Regions from separate parts of the Homo sapiens genome. Here region 1 is linked to region 2. Evidence: fine-mapped expression QTL. A gene starts in region 2. The other region holds a variant in brackets. All regions are shown on one strand. Distances are from middle to middle.

Region 1 (10,205 bases), 590 kb after region 2:
GCCCTGTCCCCTACCTTTGATTCATCAAATGCTTATAATTTTTGTTTGGAGACTACTGCGTGCATGCCTCTATTGCTCTTCCTTGGCTCTTATTATTTGGTCCTACTCCTAACTCACCTGATAACTCCAACTTTTGGTAGATTTTGTTCCTGTCTCTTATAGTGTCCCAACTTGGTTTCTTCCTACCAAACAAAAAGACACGGGAAGTATCTGTAGTAGAATGTTTCTGGTATCCAGTTGGCAAATGGAAACTGAGGTTGGCCCCAACTGTTCTTAGACCACCTTTAGGTTTTGTTGATCTTAATGAAATACACAGCATTGCATTTCATTCCTTTTCATTTAAACTATAAAATTATATCAAATGATGCCTACATTAAGATTCTCCCTATAAGACTGCCATTCCAGATGGCAAAAGGTGAATAGTCATAATAGAAACCAATTCTTAAGCACATGTGTGGTATTCCCTTGACCACACCCTGGGCCATGGTATCTGTTAATATGAAAGCACATGGGGAACCACAGAGGAGAATGGCCTAGGTGGTGGCTGCTGTTTGCTGAGGTGTGCTGCTTACTCAAGCAGGAGGGCACCTCTGACTGCTTGGGATCTCCTTTTTTTTTTTTCTTTTTTTAGACAGAGTTTTGCTCTTGTCACTCAGGCTGGAGTGCAATTTTGTAGTCTTGGCTCACCTCAACCTCTACCTCCCAGGTTAAAGCAATTCTCCTGCCTCAGTCTCCCGAGTAGCTGGGATTACAGGCACCTGCCACCATGCCTAGCTAATTTTTTTATTTTTGGTAGAGACAGGGTTTCACCATGTTGGCCAGGCTGGTCTTGAGCTCCTGACCTCAGGTGATCCACCCGCCTCAGCCTCCCAAAGTGCTGGGATTACAGGTGTGAGCCACTGCACCCGGCGGGATCTCCTTTAAGTTGAGATGGTCAGGACTGTAGGAACTTCAGCACATGTTTAAAGGAAGATTACCTATCATTAAGTTAGAAGGAAATGACAGAAATCTAGTGTATAATTACAGTGGTAAGCTCTGCTCTCCATAGGCATGGATGTATTTTAGTAGAGACAAGGTCTCACTATGTTGCCCAGGTTGGTCTCAAACTCTTGAGCTCACGCGATCCTCTCGCCTTGGCCTCCCAAAGTGCTGGGACTATAGGATTGAGCCACTAGGCCCAGCCCGTCCTAGGCATTTGTAATAAATGAGGCACTCTTGAACATTCCTGCCTCATGGATCTTAAGTCAGCTGCCTGCACTGGGGAAGCCTTCGTGTGTACTCTATGTGTGAAAGCAGAAGGAAAGAACATGTTTGATTTAAATATTTTCATTGTTTCCTCATTATTAATAGTGGAAGAATTTTTGGAAGTGCCTTGAAAATCAGAATAGAATTGGTCTGATTTGATGAGAACTCAGACATAATACAATGGTATTCTAATGTTAAAACTAGAATGGGCTGGAAATGATGGCTTACGCCTGTAATCCCAGCACTTTGGGAGGCCAAGGCAGGCAGATTGCTTGAGCTCAGGAGTTCGAGACCAACCTGGGCAACATGGTGAAACCCTCTCTCTACAAAAATAAAAAAAATTTGCTTGGTGTGGTGGCGTGTGCCTGTGGTCCCAACTACTTGGGAGGCTGAGGCAGAAGGATCACTTGATCCCAGGAGGTCAAGGCTGCATTTAGCCAAGATTGTGCCACCGCACTCCAGCCTGGGCGATAGAGCAAGACCCTGTCTTTTAAAAAAACTGGAACTTTTTTTTGAGACAGGGTTTTGCTGTGTCGCCCAGCCTGGAGTACAGTGGTGCAGTCATGGCCCACTGCAGCCTCGAATTCCTGGGCTCAAGCAATCCTCTCACCTCAGCCACCTGAGTAGCTGGGACTTACAGGCATGTGCTACCACACCCAGCTACAGTTGGCTTTTTAAGCCCCTCACACCTACTTACACAACCCTACCTCATGAGAAATAAAGCTCAGGAAAGGATTACAACCAATCACCACTTTCTAACCCACCCCTGGACTCAACCCCACACCGAAAAAGAAAAGCAATAGCCTGGCCGGGCATGGTGGCTCATGCCTGTAATCCTAGCACTTTGGGAAGCCGAGGTGGGTGGATCACCTGAGGTCAGGAATTCAAGACCAGCCTGGGCAACATGGCAAAACCCCACCTCTACTAAAAGTACAAAAATTAGCCGGGTGTGGTGGCAGGCAACTGTAATCCTAGCTACTCAGGAGGCTGAGGCAGGAGAATCGCTTGAACCCAGGAGGCAGAGGTTGCAGTGAGCCGAGTTCACACCACTGCACCACTCCAGCCTGGGCGACAAGAGTGAGACTCCATCTCAAAAAAAAAAAAAAAGAAAAAAAAAGCCGTAGCCCATCACATCAGCCAAGATTTTATTATCTGCGGTGCCTTTGGTCCTACTTACATGCTACTTTCCGGAGTAGCCATGCTACTTTCCGGAGTAGCAGGTTACCCTCACAAAGAGAACAGTGAGGGCCCAGTCTTCAACAAAGAGAGTCTGTCACAGGCATCCCCAGGAAGCTGCTGTGGGGAAGGCACAGTCTCTGAGGAGCCTGGGCTTCCCCTCACTTGGCCCTGATTTTGTTATTTCCATTCTCCAGGAGACTCAGCCAGAGGATGTGCTATAGACAGTTAGAAATGGATTGATGAAATGTGCTCAAGACTGGAAATTCACAGGTTCCCTTTCCTAGATTCACTTTCTTTTCCTACCCTCCTTTCCCAACCCAAAGTATAAAATTAAGGTCCTTTACTAATATTCCATTAAGTGTCATGAGTGTAATGCTTTAGTAAAAGATACAATAAACCTGAGAGAGAATGAGGGATTTTTCTACTAGTTAAACCTAATTTTAGCAAAGCTTTTAATTTTTCAGGCTTCAGATGCCTGCTGTTTAAAAAAAAAAAAGAAAAAAGAAAAGAAAAAAAGCTTGTATGTAGGTCAGACTCCCACCATTCTAAGCTTTTGATACTGCTGTTTTGATGCCATGTCTCTCTCTCTCTCTCTCTCTCTCTCTCTCTCTCTCTCTCTCTCTCTCTCATTTTCTTCCTCTCCCTGTCTGCTGGGAAAAAATACCTGATTTTTTTTTTTTAATGGAAAAGACATACATCCTTTACTTTGTTTGCTAAGGCCTGTTCCTATGCATTTCAGATTTGTGTGGGCCAGATCTCTTAATGTTAGTAAGAATTAATGGAAATGCAGACACTGTTGTTCATTTAAAAGTGGTGAGACCTATATCAGACACCACAAAAACCCATAAAGATGTTTAGACTTCTTAAGGACAAGGGTTGCTTTGTGCGAAATTGATTTTGTCTTCTCCTGAGTCTTCTTAAATTCTACCCCATTTCAGATTTCATCCTTGGAAGTTACCTTTTCTAAGGGGAAAGTTACTCCTTAGAAAGGAAGGTGGGGTAAAGGAAAAGAGAATGGACCTCAGGGTCAGAGAGACCTGGATTTGAATCTCAGCTCAGTCTCTTGTTCATTGTGACTTTGCGCCAAATTACATAGCTTCTCTGAGGCTTAGTTTCCTTATCTCAAAACTAGGCCCTTACCATCATCTTACTAACAACCTGGAGACTTCAGAGAGATAACTGTCAAATCACCTGGCACGGTCAACCCTTACTCAACCTTATTCTTACCTCCTTTCCTGTCTTTTCTCTAAACCCACTGCCCCAGGTACACCAGTGCTGAGTTGCTTAGCATCTGACAGAAGGAACCTCTGAATGGCAAAGGGACATCATTCACTCTTAGGTACCTCTTGCTTTCCTGAGAGATGTTTGTTTTTGCAGGGTGCCATAAGCAGAAGTAAATTGCTTTTCCTCTAGACCTTCATTTTTGCTGCCAAGGAGCCGTTGTCCTCTCATACTCAGAACACCTGTATCCCAGTGGCTTTATGACCTTGTTTGTGACAATAGGATAAAGAATCTTTTTCACAAGGCTTTAGAATTTATAATAAATGAAAAGAAAGGTTTTTTTAGCTGTTGGGCTAACAGCCTTGGAAAACCCTAAAGCTGCCCTATTCCAGCTTGTATTCATAAAGATGTAGGGTAATAGGTAAATGGGCCACTGCCACTGAGCAGATAGCTTTGGAAATAGTACTACTGGGCCTAAGAGCAAGAGCCTGCAGGCATTTCCCAGTGCATGATAGGTAGACATCACTTTGTGGGTGTTTGTCAATCAGCCAGTGATGCTCCTCTTTGCCAGATTATTTCTTGAATAGTTGATTTCTCTGCTGGAACATATATTCTGAATTGCGGGTTCAGAAAGTAATTTCTGTCTGGAGCTGAGCATGGGGCAAATAATGGATCAATCAGTTTGGTGACACCAGGGTTTGCATCACGTCGTCTCTGAGCACCTGTTGGACCCCTCTCCCCCAGACCTTGATTGTCAGGGGTGCACACTGGCTGCAAGCACCATCTCTAGAATCAGAGTACCTGTATCAGATCTGAGCTCCCTCATTTACATGCTTTATGACATTGGGCAAGCTACTTAATCTTTGTGTCCTTCCCTTTCTTCCACAGGGATAATAGTGCCTGGTTTATAGTGTTGTTATGGGGATTGAATGAGTTAACATTTATAAAACTCTTAAATATAGTGCCTAAGGCATAGCACATGTTTCCTACGTAGTTTCCTGAGGCTGCTATAATAACTTTTTTGAGGCAGAGTTTGCTTTTGTCGCTCAGGCTGGAGTGCAGTGGTGTGATCTCTGCTCACTCTAACCTCTACCTCCCGGGTTCAAGTGATTCTCTTGCCTCAGCTTCCCAAGTAGCTGGTATTACAGGCATGTGCACTCCTGGCTAATTGTTGTATTATTAGTAGAGACAGGGTTTCACCATGTTGGCTAGGCTGGTCTCAAACTCCTGACCTCAGGTGATCCGCCCTCCTCAGCCCCCCAAAGTGCTGGGATTATAGGTGTGAGCCACTGCGCACAGCCTGTCAGAATAACTTAAAACAAGAGAAATGTATTCTTACTCTCTGGGAAATCAGGTCCAATATCCAGCAAAGCCATGCTCCTTCCAAGGTATATAGGGAAGAATCCTGTTCCTTGTCTCTTCCAACTTCCGGTGGCTTGCAGCATTCCTTGTCTTACGGCCACGTCTCTCTTTGCTCCATCTTTACATCACCTTCTTCTCTCTCTGTCTTTGTCTCTGTGTGTGTGTGTGTGTGTGTGTGTGTCTCTCTCTCTCTTTTTTTTTTTTTTTTTTTTTTTTTTGAGACAGAGTCCCTCTGTAGCCCAGGCTGGAGTGCAGTGGCGTGATCTCAGCTCACTGCATCCTCCACCTTCCAGGTTCAAACTATCTTCTCCTCAGCCTCCCAAGTAGCTGTGACCACAGGCATATACCACCACACACAGCTGATTTTTATATTTTTAGTAGAGACGAGGTTTCACTATGTTGGCCAGGCTGGTCTTGATCTGCTGACCTCAAGTAATCCACCCACCTCAGCCTCCCAAAGTACTGGGATTACAGGCATGAGCCACTGCACTGGGCCACATACATAGCTTTAATCAATAAAATCTCAGGAAACCAAAGCTCAGGGATTGAGAGAGAGAGGAGGAGACCTGTGAAGGGCGGCAATATGTTCTTCCTAACTTGTTTAAGGCCTCTGTCCAGGTCGGACTTGGTGGAAGCGAGCAACCTGTACCTGTTGATAAACATGGGCAGCATTATTTCTCCTAGTATATGGCTTCCCTTTGTCACAACAAGTCCATTAGGAGTGTTCTTTCGTCTGCAGGCTAGAATATTGTACTTTTTAGTTTTAA[A/G]AGTAGGCCTCCTGTTTCCAGCAGCAACAAAATCATCTCCTGTTGTCCTTCACGCCACCTAGAATACCATTAGAGAATCATTAGTAGTGATTTAGAGTGTGGAAAACAAAGCATTGCTTTTATTAATGGCCTAGCAGGTGATGTGGGGTAGGAAGAGAACAAAAAAAGGGCTTCCAAAAGGGAGCTGGGACAGTACCACCTTAAAAACAAAGGTGCCTCTTTGGCAGTTTGTGGAGAATCTTAGAATAGTAAGTCTCTGTTTGCCACTGCTCTATTTGAAACTCTGGGAGTTCTATACCTTCCCTTCACCGATACCTCTGTATTTCACTATATGGCTGCCCAGCCTACATCTGTTCCCAAAGCAAAAAGTTCTGTGTCCTCTTCACGTCATCCCATCTTCACACTCCCAGCAGTCAGATACCAAACCCAAATTCATTTTCCATCTCAGCTCCATGCTCGCCCTTCCTTCTTGCTCTGTCTCCAATCCCGAGGATGCCTCTTTTTACAGAACCTGTGGCTGGGCACAATAGCTCACACCCATAGTCCCAGCAACTCAGGAGACTGAGTTAGGAGGATCATTGAGCCTAGGAGTTTGAAACCAGCCTGGGCAACATAGCAAGGCCCCATCTCTATAAAAAATTAGCTGGCGTGGGCCGGGCATGGTGGCTCACGCCTGTAATCCCAGCACTTTGGGAGGCCGAGGCAGGCGGATCATGAGGTCAGGAAATCGAGACCATCCTGGCTAACATGGTGAAACCCCATCTCTACTAAAAATACAAAAAATTAGCCGGGCGTGGTGGCGGGTGCCTGTAGTCCTAGCTACTCGGGAGGCTGCGGCAGGAGAATGGCATGAACCCGGGAGGCGGAGATTGCACCACTGCACTCCAGCCTGGGCAACAGAGTGAGACTCCGTCTCAAAAAATTAAAAAATAAAAAATAAAATAAATAAATAAATTAGCTGACGTGGTGGTGCACACCTGTAATCCTAGCTACTCAGGAAGTTGAGGCGGGGGCATCACTTCAACCCAGGAGTTCACTGCTTTAGTGAGCTATGACCATACCACTGTACTCCAGCCTGGGTGACAGAGCAAGACCTCATCTCTCTCTCTTTTTTTTTTTTTTTTTTGAGACTGAGTCTCGCCCTGTCGCCCAGGCTAGAGTGCAGTGACGCAGTCTCAGCTCACTGCAACTCCTGCCTCAGCCTCCTTAGTAGCTGGGATTACAGGTGCGTGCCACCACGCCTGGCTAATTTTTTTATTTTCATCATGTTGGTCAGGCTGGTCTCAAATGCCTGACCTCGTCATCTGCCTGCCTCGGCCTCCCAAAGTGCCGGGATTACAGGCAGGAGCCACCGCCCCTAGCCAAGACCTCATCTCTTTTAAAAAAATAAAATAAAAAAAAAAAGAAGGAACTTGCAGAGTGCCATCTCCATCTCCTATTCCTTTCTGTCTCATCAGCCTGACATTCAGCCCATACTTCTCTGCAAAGGCACTTTTTCTCTGCTCTAGGCACTAACTCCTCTGCATCCCTTCTTAAAGCTTTCTATCCTAGCTGGGCATGGTGGCATGCACCTGTAACCCCAGCTACACAGGAGGCTGAGGCAGGAGAATCACGTGAGCCCAGGAGGTCTAGTCCAGCCTGGGCAACGTAGCAAGACCCCATCTTTTTTCTTCTTCTTCTTCTTATTTATTTATTTATTTTTTTTTTTTTGAGACGGAGTCTGACTCTGTCACCCAGGCTGGAGTGCAGTGGCATGATCTCGGCTCACTGCAACCTCCGCCTCCCACGTTCAAGCAATTCCCTGCCTCAGCCTCCCGAGTAGCTAGGATTACAGGTGCCCACCATCACACCCAGCTGATTTTTGTATTTTTAGTAGAGATGGGGTTTCACCATCTTGGCCGGGCTGGTCTTGAACTCCTGACCTCTTGATCCACCTGCCTTGCCCTCCCAAAGTGCTGGGATTATAGGCGTGAGCCACCACGCCCAGCCAAGACTCCATCTCTTAAACATTTTCTAAAAAATTGCTTTCCATCCCACAGAAAATTAGGTTCAAGCTTCTCTTCTTTTCAGAACCTTTCACTAAGTCCTCTGTAGCCTTACTTTTGAAGTCCTCACCCCTTGTTCTACATGCATGACTCCTTTTTGAATTAATATAGCCCTTTTTCCTTTGAATCATGACAGACCCAGCAGTTTTGTTTTGTTTTGTTTTTGTTTTTGTTTTTGGGAAAGAAAAAAAAAAAACCTGGCCGGGTTTGGTAGCTCACACCTGTAATCCCAGCACTTTGGGAGGCCAAAGCAGGCAGATCACGAGGTCAAGAGATTGAGACCTTCCTAGCCAACATTGTGAAACTCGGTCTCTACTAAAAATAAAAAAATTAGCTGGGCGTGGTGGCACGTGCCTGTAGTTTCAGCTATTCGGGAGGCTGAGGCAGGAGACTCACCTGAACCAGGGAGGCAGAGGTTGCAGTGAGTCGAGATCGCCCCACTGCACTCCAGCCTGGGCAACAGAGTGAGACTCCCGTCTCAAAAAAAAAGAAAAAGAAAAAGAAACCTTTATAAGCCTCGGTGTAATACAGATGAAAGATAGTAAGGTACCACAAAAGGGTATGGTATTTATATAGATGCTGCATATAAATGGTACCTCTCAGTAATAATGGGAGTGACATTAACATTATTTTCTGATTGTTTTAACTTAGGCTTGGCTGTGTGTTTATTTTATTTTATTTTATTTTATTTATTTATTTATTTTGAGACGGAATTTCACTCTTGTTGCCCAGGCTGGAGTGCAATGGCTCATTCTCGGCTCACTGCAACCTCCACCTCTCCGGTTCAAGCGATTCTCCTGCCTCAGCCTCCCGAGTAGCTGGGATTACAGGTGCCCACCACCGCATCTCGCTAATTTTTTTGTATTTTTAGTAGAGATGGGGTTTCAACATGTTAGCCAGGCTGGTCTCGAACTCCTGACCTCAGGTGATCTCGCCTCGGCCTCCCAAAGTACTGGGATTACAGGCGTGAGCCATCGCGCCCGCTTGGCCATGTGTTTAAAAAAAATTTTTTTTAACCCGTACACAAACTTTCCTAGCAGATTATTCATAGTAGCCAAAAAGTGAGAACCGCCAGATGTCCTCTTCAGGCTGTGTGGTCCATCCACAGCAGGGAGCACCACCCAGCACTGAGAGGAACAGCCTGTGGCTGCATACAGAACCGGTGACTCTCCAGGAAATTACCTGGAGTGAAAAAAAACCAATCCCAAAATGTTGCAAACGGTGCTTCCACTTATGTAACATTCCTGCAACAACAGGTCAGAGATGGAGAATAGAGGAGTGGCAGCAGGAGTCAGGATGGGTTGTAGGGATGTAGGTATGCAGATCTTATCAAGGTCTACCTGCTGTGCTGCAGCATATCCCCTGGGGGTGGGCCAAGGCACCCAGGATTTCTATTATTTCTTACTGGTTTGTGGATCTACAAGCATGTGGCCTCACAGTCCCGCCACAAGGATGCCTGAGTCCTTGGGTCCCTGCTGTCCCAGGTGTTTTTAGGATTAGTCCTATCCCTAATCCCTTTCCTTCACTTTACTTACATCTCATCCACAATTCCAAGTTACTCACAAATTTTTATTGATCAGCTGGAAAGTCTTCATTTTTTTTGGCTTGCTCCTTCCATAGTTTTTCCTTGGTTTGCCTTTCACTCCTTTATGTGCACTCATCCCTCGTATGCCTTTAGTGTTCTTGCCATTTGTCCCTTTTATCCTGAATCAGTCCCTAGATTGGCAGACTCTTCAACACTGCCTATTTCTGTCCTAGATACACGGCACAAGCACAAAAAGACAAAAATTAATGATGGTCAGTTGGTCCTAGTCGCAGTGTTCACATAGGAGTAGATCCAGCAGCTGCTCTTGATTTTGCCAAAGTGATTTGACCAAGTTATTTTCCAGCAAGCGGATCTCTGAGACTCCTCTGCTAGGCTTTGCGTTACATTATAGAGTGCAGAAAGATGGGCCACAGGGCCCAAAATTCTCTATTATGTACATTCTGGGTCATAATGTTGATGTACTTTGCTTTAAAAAGTAGTCCCTAGAAGACTGGACTACCCTAATTCCTATTTTTTTTTTTTTTTGGAGTTTCATTCTTGTTGCCCAGGCTAGGGTGTAATGGTGCAATCTTGGCTCACTGCAACCTCCACCTCCCGGGTTCAAGCAGTTCTCCTGCCTCAGCCTCTCAAGTAGCTGAGATTACAGGTGCATGCCACTAAGCCCAGCTAATTTTTGTATTTTTAGTAGAAATGGGGTTTCACCATGTTGGTCAGGCTGGTCACGAACTCCTGACCTCAGGTGATCCACCCACCTTGGCCTCGCAAAGTGCTGGGAATACAGGTGTGAGCCACTGTGCCCAGCCCCTTATTCCTAATTCTCATACCTCATTGTAGTTCTCT
Region 2 (10,205 bases):
TATGCTGCTGCTGGGAACAAGGGACCATAGTGCCCCGAAGGAGCTCCCAGCTCCTGCAGGAAGTCCAGGGCCGGCCTCTCCTGCTATGCCTGGATGCCTGCTTCCCACCTTCAGAGGCCAATAGCTTCCCTCCATCATGACCTCTCCACGGCATCATTTTTTTTTACTTTTTTAGGAGCAACTGGAGAGAGGAGGAAAATCTGAGAGTGGTGCTCTGAAAACCTAGCAAAGCGAATGTTTCTAGGAGTGGCCAAGCATGCAGTGAGGATGATGGGTGGCTGCTGGGTGGAGTAAAGCTAGGACTGCAAATTGGTCACTGTATTCAGCAAAATGAAGGTTCCCGGAGAATTTGACAAAAGCCGTTTCCACCCTGGCACAGTGGCTCATGCCTGTAATCCCAGCACCTTGGGAGGCCAAGGCGGGCAGATCACTTGAGGTCAGGAGTTCGAGACCAGCCAGTGAAACCCCATCTCTACTAAAAATACAAAATTAGCCAGGCGTGGTGGCGGACACCTGTAATCCCAGCTACTCGGGAGGCTGAGGCAGGAGAATCACTTGAACCTGGGAGGTGGGAGGCGGAGGTTGCAGTGAATTAAGATTGCCACACTCCAGCCCGGGCGACAGAGTGAGACTCCATCTCAAAAAAAAAAAAAAGCCACTTCCATGGAGTGGGGAAAATCAATGTCTGATGACAGTGGGTCCAAGAGAAAATGTGAGGAGAGAAATTAGAGACAACTTTTTTGAGGAGTTTTACTGTGTTTTGTTTTTTGGGTTTTTTTTTTTTTTGAGAGGGAGTCTTGCTCTGTCTTTCAGGCTGGAGTGCAGTGTCCTGATCTCTGCTCACTGCAATCTCTGCCTCCCGGCTCAAGCAATTCTCCTGCCTCAGCCTCCTGAGTAGCTGGGATTACAGGCGCCCACCACCATGCCTGGCTAATTTTTGTATTTTTAGTAGAGATGGGGCTTTCTTTTCTTTTTTTTTTTTTTTTTTGAGAGGGAGTCTCGCACTGTCACCCAGGCTGGAGTGCAGTAGTGCCATCTCCACTCACTTCAACCACCGCTTCCCAGGTTCAAGCAATTCTCTTGCCTCAGCCTCCCAAGTAGCTGGGATTACAGGTGCCCACCACCACGCACCACTAATTTTTTGTATTTTTAGTAGAGATGGGGTTTCACTATGTTAGCCAGGCTGGTCTTGAACTCCTGACCTCATGATCCACCCATCTCGGTTTCCCAAAGTGCTGGGATTACAGGCGTGAGCCACCATGCCCGGCCAAGATGGTGTTTCACCGTGTTGGCCAGGCTGGTTTTGAACTCCTGACCTCGGCCTCCCAAAGTGCCGGGATTACAGGTGTGAGTCACTGTGCCCGGCCAGGAGTTTTACTGTGAAGGGAAGGAATGAATATAGTTGGAGGGGAAAGTGGCATCAAGGAAAGGCTTTTTATCACTAATAATAAACATTTCATTGAAATACACCATTCATACAGAACAGCTAACAAATCTTGAGTGTGTAGCTCAATGAATTTCCACAAGGTGAACACACTCAGGTAACCAGCACCCAGATCAAGAAATGGAAAGTGGCCAGGTGCAGTGGCTCATGCATATAATGCTAACACTTTGGGAGTCCAAGACGGGAGGATCGCTTGAGCTCGAGAGTTTGAGACCAGCCTGGGCATCATAGTTAGACTCCCGTCTCTAAAATTATACATATATTTTTTTCTGAGACAGAGTCTTGCTCTGTTGCCCAGGCTGGAGTGCAATGGCATGATCTCAGTTCACTGTAACCTCCGCCTCCTGGGTTCAAGTGATTCTACTGCCTCAGTCTCCCAAGTAGCTGGGATTACAGGCGTGTGCCACCACACCCGGCTAATTTTTTGTATTTTTAGTAGAGACGGAGTTTTGCCATGTTGGCCACACTGGTCTCGAACTCCTGACCTCATGATCCACCCACCTCGGTTTCCCAAGGTGCTGGGATTACAGGCGTGAGCCACCATGCCCAGCCAAAATAAAAAATAAAATTTTTAATTAGCTAGGTTTATGGGTGCATGCCTGTAGTTCAGGCTACTCAGGAAGCTGAGGTGGGAGGATCACTTGAACCCAGAAGTTCGAGGCTATAGTGAGCCATGATCATGTCACTGCACTCCAACCTGGGCCACAGAGCAAGACTCTGTCTCAAAAAGTGAAAAATAAATAAGAAACAGAATATGACCAGTTGCCAATATCCCCTTCATGGCCCCTTGCAGTCACCACCATCTTTCTGAAAGGTAACTAGTACCATAACTAACTTTTTTTTTTTTTGAGACGGAGTCTCGCCCTGTCACCCAGGCTGGAGTGCAGTGGCTCAATCTCGGTTCACTGCAACCTCCACCTCCTGGGTTCAAGCAATTCTCATGCCTCAGCCTCCATAGTAGCTGGGATTACAGTTGTGCACCACCATACATGGCTAATTTTTGTGTATGTATATATGTGTGTATATATATGTTTGTGTATATTACATGTGTGTATATATGTATATTACATATGTGTGTATATATGTATATATACATATATATGTATATGTATATATACATATATATGTATATGTATATATACATATATATGTATATGTATGTACACATATATATGTATATTATGTATATATACACATGTATGTATATTATGTATATATACACACATATATGTGTGTGTGTGTATATATATATATATTTTTTTTTAGTAGAGATGAGGTTTCACTATGTTGGCCAGGCTGGTCTCGAACTCCTGGCCTCAAGTGATTCGCCTGCCTCAGCCTCCCAAAGTGCTGGGATTACAGGTGTGAGCCAGACCTAAACAGCATGTTCTCTTTTGTGTCTTCCTTCTTATGTTTGACATTGATGTGAGATTCACTCCTACTGTGGGTAGCGCTTCTGTCCTTTTCATCACTGTATAAAATAACTTTGTTCTATTTACCCATTTTATTGTTGATGGGCATTAGGGTTGCTTTCTGTTTGGAGCTAAAATGATTAACATGGCCATGAATATTTGTGTACATGCATTTTGGCACACTTGAACTGTATTGTAGCTTCTGTGCCAACTTTTCCCTTCCCATGGCCTTCTGTGGCCACCTCCTCGCCTTCCTACATGATTTCCATAGTTGCCTGTGACCTCATTCTGGCCACCTTCAGTGACTCTCCTGGGTGCACCTCTGAACTATGGACTCGGCTACTCCCTTGTGGTTTCTATCTCAGCCCCAGCTTTGCGGTCCTGTCTCACTACATCAAGTCCTCAATGCTGGTGCTCCCCAGATCCAGGGTCCTAAAAACCCTTTGTACATCCTCAATGGGCATTACCATCTTCATGCTAATCAACACCAAATCTGCCTCCTGACTACACCCCCCAGCCAGTCCACCAGCACAAAACTGAGCTCATCAAATTCCTCCAAGAAGTATGCCTCCAATTGTTGAAATGTTACATCCACCCAGGTACTTGAATCATTACCTAAGAATCATTCTAGCCTCCTCCCTTCCCTCTAGCCCCCTACAATCTTAACTCTCAATTATCAAAATCTGATGAGATCTACCTCCTTCAGGGCTCACAGAATCATTCCCTTCCTTTGTCTCCAAGGCCCCCACCTTGCTTCAGAATCTCCCAGACTTTTGAGACAGCCACCTCCTTTTTCCTCAGGCCTCCCCACTCTCCTCCACTGATCCACCCTAAAGCAAATCTGATCCGGTTATCACACACCCTCCACTGTCCACAGGATAAGGCCAAACTCTTCAGCAAACTCCAATCCTTTCAAGAACTGTCCCTCACAGCCAGTCCCATGTGCCCATTCTAGAACCGACTGGATCAACTCAGGAGTAGCTCCCGGCAAGTACGGCGTTCCTCCTCACCTCCTGGCTGCCGAGGGCCGTTTCCTTAGAAAGCACTTCCCACCAGCCCCAAGCTCCCCTTCTCCAGCAACCTTGACCTTTAGTTTTAATCTCCTTTAGGACGTGCCCCCCACCGTACTGCCTTCCCCAGTCCCCGCCCCTCCTCTAGGTGCCCACCATCCCTCCACAAACCACAGCTATTGTCATGGTAATAATTCCATTATTAGAAGGAGCTTTATGCTCAGCGGACCAGAGCTCCCTGAGAGCAGGGATTGTGGTATTATTTCAAGCACTGAATTTGTTCTAGTAATCCTTAAATAAACATATGTTGAATGAATGAATGCAGTAACAGGAATGTTGAGCCAAGTTTTGTTTTTGTTTTTTGAGACGGAGTCTCGCTCTGTTGCCCAGGCTGGAGTGCAGTGGCTCGGTCTTGGCTCACTGCAAGCTCCGCCTCCCGAGTTCAGCCATTCTTCTGCCTCAGCCTCCCGAGTAGCTGGGACTACAGGCGCCCGCCACCACGCCCGGTAATTTTTTGTATTTTTAGTAGAGCCGGGGTTTCACCATGTTAGCCAGGATGGTCTCGATCTCCTGACCCCGTGATCCGCCCGCCTCGGTCTCCCAAAGTGCTGGGATTACAGGCGTGAGCCACCGCTCCCGGCCTGTTGAGCCAAGTATTAAACCACATAAAACACAGGAGGAGAGGAAAGTATTCAGAGATACGACAGGGAGAACTATTTGAAACAGTGGGACCACAGACCATGTGAACTGTGCAGAGAGGCCTAAATAGCCTGGGGTTTCTGGAGGGAAGGGAGGTTCCTGGGTGGTGGAGCACTGGTGCACAGAAAAGGAGATGAATCCTGAGAGAGAGGTTCCTCACTGTGAAGGGTCTGGTGTTGGGGCCAAAGGTTTGGGGTTTCCACCTGTCCAGCATGGCTTTTCAAACTGTAGGGTTTTTTTTTTTTGAGTGGGGGGCAGGGGGTGTCTCACTTTGTTGCCCAGGCTGGTCTCAAATTCGTGGGCTCAGGCAATCCTCCCACCTCGCCCTCCCAAAGTGCTGGGATGATAGGCGTGAGCCACTAAGCCCAGCAGTAGGTTGCAATTAAATCATGCACTTATGGCCCTCAAAATCCGTCTAGGAGCTGCCACAGGTTCGGCGCTGTAAAAGTAAATATGCCCACTTAGAAAATGGGGATAATTCCTATGTCACAGAGTTGTAAAGATTAAATGAATTAATACAGATTAACACACTGGGAACAGTGTCAAGTGCATAAGCATTATGTAAACTTTAGCTATTATTTGCTATTATTGTGTTTGCTGTTATTTCTCTCTAGGAGCTCCCAGGGGGCTAAGAAGTGGTGGGAAAGAAAGAAATGATTCTAAGAGCATCCAATAAGGGCTAGAATGGAAGTGAGCAAAAAATGCTGAGGCCCACAGCACAGGTTGTACTGCGGGGTTCAAATCCCATGAGGCCAGCAGCACCCAGGGTCTGTGAGCCCTCCAGAGTTGGGCCCTGGTGGTCGAGTCCAGTCCTGGGGGTCATTGCATTCCCTCCCTCATTATAAAATGGGGCCTGGAGGCCCGGGGCGGAAGAAAGGGGTCCACAATACTGCACGGTTAGAGGCCGAGCCAAGGCTGGATCCGGCCAGACCTCCACAGGTCTTCCTTAGCCTCCACATTGCCTCAGAGTGTGGGGCGCCCGGCTGGGGGCGAGGTAGCGGAGGCCCAAAGGGGGCCGAAGCTAACTGGACGGCAGCTCGCGATGGGAACTACGCTTCCCAGCATGCGACGGGGCAAAGGGGCCTTTCAGCCGCGAGCAGCGCCTCGCAGGTTCTGCTGGGAGTTTTCATTGACCTCTGCTCCCCCTCTCATTTTGATCCCCGCTCTTCTGCTCTGGGCTCCGCCCCCTTCTGAGAGCCGATGACCTGGCAGAGTCCCGCGAGCCGCTTTCTTCTTCCCCTCTCATTGGCCCAGCCTAGCTGCCATTCGGTTGAGAGGAGGAGAAGTTGCTTACTGATTGGTGGATTCCGTTTGGCGCCAACTAGGAAAGGGGGGCGGGGCAGCAGCTGGCCCCACTGAGCCGCTATTACCGCGAAAGGCCGGCCTGGCTGCGACAGCCTGGGTAAGAGGTGTAGGTCGGCTTGGTTTTCTGCTACCCGGAGCTGGGCAAGCGGGTGGGAGAACAGCGAAGACAGCGTGAGCCTGGGCCGTTGCCTCGAGGCTCTCGCCCGGCTTCTCTTGCCGACCCGCCACGTTTGTTTGGATTTAATCTTCAGGTTGCCGGCGCCCGCCCGCCCGCTGGCCTCGCGGTGTGAGAGGGAAGCACCCGTGCCTGTGGCTGGTGGCTGGCGCCTGGAGGGTCCGCACACCCGCCCGGCCGCGCCGCTTGCCCGCGGCAGCCGCGTCCCTGAACCGCGGAGTCGTGTTTGTGTTTGACCCGCGGGCGCCGGTGGCGCGCGGCCGAGGCCGGTGTCGGCGGGGCGGGGCGGTCGCGGCGGAGGCAGAGGAAGAGGGAGCGGGAGCTCTGCGAGGCCGGGCGCCGCCATGGAACTGGGCCCGGAGCCCCCGCACCGCCGCCGCCTGCTCTTCGCCTGCAGCCCCCCTCCCGCGTCGCAGCCCGTCGTGAAGGCGCTATTTGGCGCTTCAGCCGCCGGGGGACTGTCGCCTGTCACCAACCTGACCGTCACTATGGACCAGCTGCAGGGTCTGGGCAGGTAAGGAGAGACCGGCGGGCGGTGCTCCGGGCCCCTGGCCTCGGTGTCGGCCTCGGAGAGATCAGGCCAGGAAACGGACCGGGAGAAGGGCGAGACCCGTCCGTCCGGGTTCGCCGCTCGGGGACAGCCGGGCTAGGGCCTGCCATGTGCACCCCCGCCCGGGCGGAATGTTGGGCGGGAGAGGCCGTCGGGACCTTCCAGGGGAAGAGGTGGAGATCCTTGGGCCTAAGCCCGAGCCAGGCCCACCTTCACCCCTTTCGGATTGCTCCGTACTCTCCTTCTATCTCTATCCCTGGAAGCTCTTTGGAATCTACCCCCGCGGGGAAAATCAGGCTCTTCTAGGCACTCACTTTCACCCTTTGCTAAACCATCCTCAGGATCTTCGTTTGCTGTGATCTTTGTTCCTTCTCAACAAAGGACCATGGCATTTTCTTTCCTGGCGTTTATGTAAAATCATCTCAGTCCCTCGCCCTGTGCACATTCCTGATGTCCACTCTGCTGCTTTCCTAAGGCCAGGTCTTTTTACCCAACTTTCAGAAAGCTTCCTGGGCTTTTCCTGATAGCAAAAAATGCATCCCACGGTGTTTCCCGCGGAAGAGCTACTTTCCCTTCAATCTCTGGCATCCCGTTTGCTAAGCACATGTCTTGTGCGTTTCCCAACTTCTGAAAAGCAGAAAGTGTCCTGTTCAACTTTCATCCCGACTCTGTCTCAGTACTTAGAACACATGCTTTTATTTTAGGAAATACCCCAACATTTGCCATAGCCATCATAACCTGCAATGTGGTCCAAGGCCATGCCCACCCACTCCTTTTTTCTCCTTTGCCCAAGTGCTAATTGGGTGTTCAGAGTGGCAAAGTGGGATCTTTGCCACTTGTGGTGTGGCCTAGAAATGGTTTCTGGCAGCCTGGCTGCTTCTTAATCTCATGGCCTATCTCCTGCATGTGACCTTTTAATTATATCCTATAAATCATTCATGGTTTATTTCTGTTGGTTTCAGTGATTATGAGCAACCACTGGAGGTGAAGAACAACAGTAATCTGCAGAGAATGGGCTCCTCCGAGTCAACAGATTCAGGTATTTAAGTCTGCTGTGTGGGGAGCAATACTCTGAATTTCCTGAAACATGCCTTTTCACCCAGGAGGTTAGTTTTGGTGAGAACTTGAGGAAGTCATGGCATTGGGTGATAAACTTTTTTTTTTTTTTTTTTGAGACAGAGTTTCGCTCTTGTCGCCCAGGCTGGAGTGCAATGGCATGATCTCAGCTCACTGTAACCTCCACCTCCCGGGTTCAAGTGATTCTCCTGCCTCAGCCTCCCGAGTAGCTGGGATTACAGGCATGCACCACCACACCCGGCTAATTTTGTATTTTTTAGTAGAGACAGGGTTTCTTCATGTTGGTCAGCCTGGTCTCGAATTCACAACCTCAGGTGATCCGCCTTCCTCGGCCTCCCAAAGTGCTGGGATTACAGCGTGAGCCACCGCGCCCGGTGATAAACATTATTGAGAACAATACAAAGGAGCCCTTGTGGCTGTTTATGAAGAAAGGAAATAGGTTTCAAATGTCTATAAGGAGGTGGTGTGTGCTTGCCCTTGAAGGATGGGTAGTAAAGTATAATTCACCATACCACTGTAAGTGGCATTCAGGCAATCTTACTGGTTAAAATACAGGATCAAATGATTGGAAGTACAGTGTCATGAAATCATTTCAGTGATGCTGCTATGGAGGAAATTGCCAGTGCATTTCATTCTTCATGAATTCATATTACTGCAGAGTTTATCTGTATTTGTACAGATAAGACCATTGGTGCAAAGATCCTTTAGGTTAAAGGAACTGCAAGAGCAAGTCTTAAAATGTAATGTAGGCTTCTGTATGTAGAATGTAATTTAATATAGAACTGGGGATAGGATTATCACTTGTAGCAGTGTGGTGAGCAAGGGCTGTAACACCTCACTTTCCATAAGGCTGTATAGACACATGAGCTATGGGTGGGTGGGTCTGCGTCATCTGAGCTGGCATATTAGTAATGCTGAACAGTGTCTCCTTCACCCTGCTGCCTTTTGTGAGATGGACACCTTGGTGTCATTTTGTTAAAGGCAGCAAGTGCTTGCCTTGCATGTCATGACCAGTAGTTGTATTTTTCTTTTTCATTTTGAGACAAGGTCTCAACTCTGTCACCCAGGCAACTCTGCCTCCCAGATTTAGAGAATTCTTCTGCCTCAGCTTCCCTAGTAGCTGGAATTACAGGTGTGGGTCTCAAACTTCTGATCTCAGGTGATCCACCCACTTCGACCTCCCAAAGTGCTGAGATTACAGGGGTGAGCTACTGCACCTGGCCTTTTTTTTTTTTTTTTTTTGAGACAGGGTCTTGCTCTGTTTTCCAGGTCTCAGGCTGGTGTACAGTGGCACAATCAGGGTTCACTGTAGCTTCAACTTTCCGAGCTCAAGCGAACCTCCCACTCCAGCCTCCCCAAGTAGCTGGGACTACAGACACGTGCCACCACACCCAACTAATTTTTTTTTTAACTTTGGTAGAGTCAAGTCTCACTATGTTGCCCCAGGCTTGTTTTGAACTTGTGGCCTCAAGCCATCAGCCTGCCTCAGCCTCCCAAAGTATTGGAATCACAGGTGTGAGCCACTGTGCCTGGTCAGTAGTTGTATTTTTCAAGCCTCATATGATTTGACAAGGTAAAACGTTTAAAAACTATGCCAAGAAAATCTGGTACCTATTGTTTCTATGGTTGGAACTCACAGAAAGTTATCTGGGTCACCTCTATCTGAATAACCAAACAATCATGATATGAATCAGTTTTATTCACCCTCTTCTCAAATCCTATTTCCCTTGATGTTATTTGCAAATAGGAGAAAAAACAGTAAATACGCTATGAAAATATTAAGACTTGTACAAACATGACATTTTTGACAATCTAATAGACGTAACATCAATTCTGGCAAAAGTACAAGCCATGAATATTTGTTGCCTGACTTAAATAAAGACCCAGGTACTTTGTTTAGTGTTTTAATTTTAATGACAAAATGGTGTTTTTTGTATTATTTCTTGAGAGGTTTTTTTTTTCCCCATAGGTTTCTGTCTAGATTCTCCTGGGCCATTGGACAGTAAAGAAAAGTATGTATTCACTGCTTTCAAATGTTTATATGTAGAAAAAACGTGTCTAAACTTAAATACCTTATTTAAATGAAGTTCTTCATACACTGGACTGGAGCCCTGGATTTACCTGTGCCTAGAAACACTCTGGAATCTCAAGAATGAATAGTTTGTGTCAGCAATTTTCAGAACTTTTTCTCCTTTATTTTAGCTATAATTTTGGTGTTCTGTTTGGGTCTTACCCAAACCCTTACTCTGTGCTCTGACATCATAGCCTTACAAGAACATGTGGGGTTTTTTTGTTTGTTTGTTTGTTTGTTTCTGAGGCAGAGTCTCACTCTGCCGCCCAGGCTAGAGTGCAGTGGCTCACTGCAACCTCCACCTCCCAGGTTCAACTGATTCTCCTGCCTCAGCCTCCCGAGTAGCTGGGACTACAGGAGTGCACCACCACACCCGGTTAATTTTTGTATTTTTAGTAGACACGAGGTTTCATCGTGTTGGCCAGGCCAGGAGTTCGAGACTCCTGACCTCGTGATATACCC

What was found. PIP is the estimated chance that this variant, and not a neighbour inherited with it, causes the effect.
Region 1: its variant is fine-mapped to the expression of CDC25A in whole blood (TOPMed, PIP 0.91).

What each region holds. Positions count from the first base shown.
Region 1 is chr3:47,593,846-47,604,050 of GRCh38, reverse strand. All of the region lies in intron 26 of SMARCC1 (SWI/SNF related BAF chromatin remodeling complex subunit C1), which reads left to right. LOC124906234 (a long non-coding RNA gene) reads right to left here and starts at 3,828. Exons shown (of 3, transcript XR_007095902.1): 1 at 3,768-3,828; 2 at 118-182. The variant A/G (reference allele first, on the strand shown) is at 5,775.
Region 2 is chr3:48,184,132-48,194,336 of GRCh38, reverse strand. CDC25A (cell division cycle 25A) reads left to right here and starts at 5,920. Exons shown (of 15, transcript NM_001789.3): 1 at 5,920-6,559; 2 at 7,558-7,634; 3 at 9,642-9,684. The coding sequence starts at 6,390. RefSeq lists a silencer at 6,254-6,463 and an enhancer at 6,207-6,835.